Regions from separate parts of the Homo sapiens genome. Here region 1 is linked to region 2. A link means that fine-mapping ties the variant in region 2 to the expression of a gene that starts in the linked region. Tissue or cell type: whole blood. Region 2 holds a variant in brackets; the other region holds the start of a gene. All regions are shown on one strand. Distances are from middle to middle.

Region 1 (2,685 bases), 79 kb before region 2:
AATTGTGAGTTGTGATATGAACTGTGAAAGAATAGTACAGAGTTCTTTGTGAAAGTTTACTGAGGGAATTGATTTATACAATGGGGGTCATGGAAGATCTTTGAGCCAGTGACATTTAAGCTTCGACCTGAAAGCCAAAAAAGTGGAAAAATGGACGAGCCAGAAAAAGCAACATGTGCAAAAGCCCTAAGACAGTTCAGAAAGTGAAGCATGTGCAGTACAGTTTAGTAAAAAGGAGGCAGAGTGCAGGGAGAGCCCCAGGTGGCAGGATATCAGAAGGATCAATACAGAAATTCCCGAGAAAAGTCCAGCATAGGAAAACAATATGGAAAAACAAAAAACAACAATGCTCAAAATTTACAATGTTCTCACATATGTTGCCTCAGTTAATCCCTAGGAGAAGTGTGTGCCGCAGGGAGGACAAGGATAATTATGGTTATTCCTACCATTGAGGATTAAAGTTTAGTTTGGGACAAAGTCATGCAGCTTTTGGTTCCATGGTTCATATCACAAGGCAAACTCTGTGGGTTCTCTGGGAAGTTGGAAGGGAGTGAATGTATTGAAGCAGAAATGACCGACTCCAGCCTGGCCAACAGGGTGAAACCCCATCTCTACAAAAAGTACAAAAATTTGCCCTGTGTGTTGGTATGCTGCAATATTGTACTGTGCTCCAGCATGGGAGACAGAGGGAGACCTTATCTCAAAAAAAAAAAAAAAAGAAAGAAATAAAGGAAGAAAGAAATGACCTATGGCTAGGGCTATGCTGAGTATCTGAAGAAAGAAGGCTTTGAACTATACGTTTAAAAGCAAGTACTTCTAGGTTGCCACTCCCTGCCTGCACTTGAGGGATTTATCTCTGGGTCAAGACAGAGAACGAGTCTTGCATTAAATTACATTAAATTAAATGAATTAATTTATGGCTGGGTGCAGTGCCTCATGCCTGTAATCCCAGCACTTTGGGAGGCTGACATAGGAGGATTGCTTGAGCTCAGGGGTTCGAGACCAGCCTGGGCAACATGGTGAAACCCTGTCTCAACAGAAAAAAAAAATTAAAAAAATTGTAAAAAAAAATTATTTATTTTCAACTTTTATTTTAAATTTAGGGGGTACATGAGTTGGTTTGTTATCTGGGTATATTGTGTGATGCTGAGATATAGGGTACGGAGTCTTGCATTTTAGAAAGTGATGAGTCACTTTCAAAGTTGACAGTTCTATAATTCCCTGATTTACATATCAGGACAAAATTTGAGCATAGGCTGGTGATTTCTGACTTGAACCTAAAGGTCTGTGGAATCGGAAGGGTTCATCAAAATGAGAAACTACAACTCCCGGCAGGCCTCGGGGCTGGGTCTTCTTCCCCGCCCCTCCCTCTTTTTCCGCCAGGGCTGGGAACGACCAATGACGGTTAGTCATTTGAATAGACCAATAATATATTAAACGGTTCAGGTTGAGGAGGGGCGGTCGAGTCATCCAATCGCACGGAAGAGGTGAAAACATATTAGCCAATCCAAATATGTGGGGGCGGGACGTAAGGTGGGGCGGTGAAAGAAGTTTGCTGACGAAGATGGCGACTGAGGCACAGAGTGAAGGGGAGGTGCCAGCCCGCGAATCCGGCCGGAGGTGAGCTGAGTTTGGTCCAGTTTCCTGGGAAACGCGGCCTTGGGCTGGTAGTCCTGCCGCCTTTGCCTTGGGTCACGGAGGCGCACGGTTCGGGCTTTGTTTCTTTCTCCCACGGCGTTTCTCATCGTCGCGCCTGCGGGGGCTGAGGCGCGGGGGTCGGGCCTGGGCGCTGGACTCCAGCCAAACCCCCCGCTCGGTCCTGCCGGTGCCCGAGGGGGCTCCTCCCGCTGCGCTGGCTGCAGACGTCCAGCTGGGGGTGGCAGCGCTGATCGCTTTGGCGCCGAGACACCTCTTGATGGCGAGGAAACGGAAGTCCAGGGCTGGTTAGCGAATTCCTCACTGTTGCACACAGCGCTTCACATCTTCTCCGAGGCACTTTGTGCGTTCAGGTCCGAGCAAGGATTTGAGTGTCAATTAGAAACAGTGTTGAGTCCTTGGGCCAGTTTTTAAACCTCTCTCGACTTCAGTTTCTTCATCTGCAAAGGGACGTGAGGATGCCTATTTCCAAGTGTCAAGATTGAATAAGACAATCCATTTAAAGCTAGCACTGAGTTTAGCCGATAATGACAACTCTACGCAATAGATTTTCTTCTTCCTAGTAGAACAGCTAAGGAGCAGATGGGAGAGGGATCTGTAGTCCAGGACATCATGACTTTATTTCCACAGGATGTTCTTTCCTAAACAGCCACACCGAGATTTAGCGTTTTCAGGAGAGAATTTCGAGGTGGTGTTGCCTTAGCCTTGAGACCTAAGTTGTCTTAATTGATTACAATTTTGTTTTTGGTGTAATTCAATAGATTGAGTTTATTTACGTTGCCTCAGTGTAACTCAGTAAAATACTTCGGTTTGGCGTCTTTTGGTTCCATTTGTACCGAATAAGAGATTCCAAGAATCTTGGGAAACTAATAACTTTGTGACTCGGCTTCTTCCTGAGCCCAGATGAGCGTGGTTGAGTGTGTTATTTAAAATATCATACGGGGCCGGGCATGGTGGCTTACGCCTGTAATCCCAGCACTTTGGGAAGCCGAGGGGAGCGGATCACCTGAGATCAGGAGTTCGAGACCA
Region 2 (2,685 bases):
CCTGCCTAATGCGTTCGTCTCTGGCCACAGGTGCATATTAAGCACTGGAAACGTGGCCCATCTGAACTGAGATGTGCTGTGCGAAATAACAGAATTCAAAGATGTAGGAAGAAAAAAGGAATATAAAAATATCTCGATAATTTTTTACACTGATGACATGTTGAAATGAGATTTTGAATATGTTGGGTTAATAAAATGTATCATTAAAATGAATTCTACCTGTTTCTTTTAACCTTTTTAATGTGGCTAACTAGAAAATATAAAATTACACATGTGGCCCATGTTATATAGTGATTGTCCCAGAACCTCTGGGCCTCTAATCCTATGCTGTCCTTTCTCCCCAACAACCTACTCCACCAGAACCTTGGCCACATCTTTTTTCCTTTAGTTAGTCCTTAGTCCACTCTGGGGAGGAGAAGCAGGGAGAGCTGGTCAGAGGACAGGACAAACACTAAAAATGTCACCCCACCCCCGTGAGCTACTGCCCTGGGCATACAGACCCACTAAGTCTTTCTGCTCAGGTTAGAGGCCTTGGGCCAGGGCCTTCTGCCTCTCTGATGAAGAGCCATGGGGATTTAATGGACATCTAATGACCCAGTGATCCAGGCTTTAATAAGTACTTTGATGTAACCAAAATTGGCCATTAATGAGAGGTCTTATATTGTAGCCCCTTCTTAAACACCCGCCGTATGTGCTTTGTGACATGACCTAGGAAGAGGAGAATGGAGAGGAGAGACATGGCCTTCTTTCTTGTCTCTGCTTCCCTCTTCCATGGGAGCATGAAAACCTACTCTTTCCACATGGGGAGGAATATAGAACCATCTGGTGTGGAGGAAAAGGGGATATATTTAGTCTGAAGCAAATCTTTAGCAGAGACATAGAATCAAAGACGGTCATTGCTATTTGGGACCTTAGAGACAATGGATCCCAATGGTTTCAGATAGGTTTATGCAGTGCCGCCAGGGTTACTGTGAGGAGGGGAAGGGGGTCAGAAGGACAGCACCTGATTCTCCGCATCCTCTTCAGCCAGGGAGCTCCCTTTTACCTGGTTTAGAGTAAGATTTTGTTTAAATAAGTGGCTTGAAAATCATTGAACTAGCCCACAAACCATGTGTTAGAGAAACAGTTTCAGAAAGATGGCGACTTAGGCCCAGTTGATGCATTAGTGAGGGGCAGTGTGGGGGACTTGAGTCTATCTCTTTTTAAATTAACTCTATTAAGCATATAGTTTGATACATTTTTTTTTTTGAGACTGAGTCTCACTCTGCCGCCCAAGCTGGAGTGTAGTGGCGCAATCTCGGCTCACTGCAGCCTCCTC[G/A]CCTCCTGGTTTCAAGTGATTCTCGTACCTCAGCCTCCCAAGTAGGTGGGATTACAGGCAAGCGCCACCATGCCCAGCTAATTTTTGCATTTTTAGTAGAGATGGGGATTTCACCATATTGGCAAGGCTGGTCTCGAACTCCTGACCTCTAGTGATCTGCCCGCCGTGGCCTCCCAAAGTGCTGGGATTACAGGTATGAACCATTGCGCCCGGCCAGTTCGATAAGTTTTGACAAACATATACGTCTCTGTAACCACCACCCCAATTAAGATGTACATTTCCGTCAGTCCAGAAAGTTCTCTCATGCCACTTTGCAGTCAGTTCCCCATGCCCCTGCCCCAGGCTGCCAGTGATTTCATTTCTGTCACTGGAGATGGCTTTTGTTATTAAACCCCTGCTAACTCACAGTTGGTGTGCTGACCATGCCTCCCACTCTGGCTGACCCTGTGTTTCCAGGTGTTCTGATGTGGACAAAGGAGGATGCTTGTGACATGTTTCTGGGAGCAATAGCAGGAATAAGAAGACTGGTTCTGGCTTATGGGAATCTGAGTTCCTTGAAGGCCAGAGCTGTTCTTTATATTCTGTTTCCACACTACCTAGTGCAATGCCTGGCACATACGAGGCCTTTGGTGAGGGTGGGAAAGTAAGGTGGAAGGGTGGGTGGGCGGAGGCCCGGAAAGATGTGTACGGGAGGTCCAGGGACACTTCCTGGAGCTGTTACTTAGAGACGAGTTACATAAGGACGGGGGCTTGGGGCGCTGTGGGGCAGAGGTGGATGTTTTGAGGGCCCAGAGTTCATTCATTCCGTGTGTATTTATTTAGCTGGTGATGTTTCACAGGGAGTCGTCAGGGATGTCAGAGTCTTGGGTGGGGGGTTGATGGAAGGGAGGTGCTGGATGGTCCAGGAAGGTAGGGCTGTCAAGAGTCGGGGCTGCAGATGAGAGGAGGAGGGAAATGGAAGCCCTGAGGGGTAGACAGGAAAGGGTAGGATAGAGTGTGTTGTGAGAGAGTCAGGCTACACTGCAGGCATCGTTTCCCCAAAATGACTTCTAGACAGTACTTTGGATAAACAGGTGTTTTGTTTTTTTTTTTTTTTTTTTTTAAAGACAGAGTCTTGCTCTATCCCCCAGGCTGGAGTGCAGTGGCACGATCTTGGCTCACTGCAACCTCTGCCTCCTGGGTTCAAGTGATTCTCATGCCTCAGCCTCCCAAGTAGCTGAGATTATAGGCACAACTTGTTGCCCAGGCTGGAGTGCAATGGCACGATCTTGGCTCACCGCAACTTCTGCCTCCTGGGTTCAAGCGATTCTCCTGCCTCAGCTCCCGAGTAGCTGGGATTACAGGCATGTGCCACTACGCCAGGCTAA

Evidence for each region. PIP is the estimated chance that this variant, and not a neighbour inherited with it, causes the effect.
Region 1: ARHGAP19 starts here. The variant in region 2 is fine-mapped to the expression of ARHGAP19 in whole blood (TOPMed, PIP above 0.99).

The regions. Positions count from the first base shown.
Region 1 is chr10:97,291,507-97,294,191 of GRCh38, reverse strand. It overlaps ARHGAP19 (Rho GTPase activating protein 19), which reads left to right and starts at 1,555. Exons shown (of 12, transcript NM_032900.6): 1 at 1,555-1,620. The coding sequence starts at 1,565. ARHGAP19-SLIT1 (ARHGAP19-SLIT1 readthrough (NMD candidate)) reads left to right here and starts at 1,519. Exons shown (of 15, transcript NR_037909.1): 1 at 1,519-1,620. RefSeq lists a silencer at 1,834-1,883 and enhancers at 1,228-1,984, 1,985-2,685.
Region 2 is chr10:97,212,978-97,215,662 of GRCh38, reverse strand. All of the region lies in intron 11 of ARHGAP19-SLIT1 (ARHGAP19-SLIT1 readthrough (NMD candidate)), which reads left to right. Among named protein-coding and RNA genes, the nearest start is that of SLIT1, 28 kb to the right of the region's middle. The variant G/A (reference allele first, on the strand shown) is at 1,319.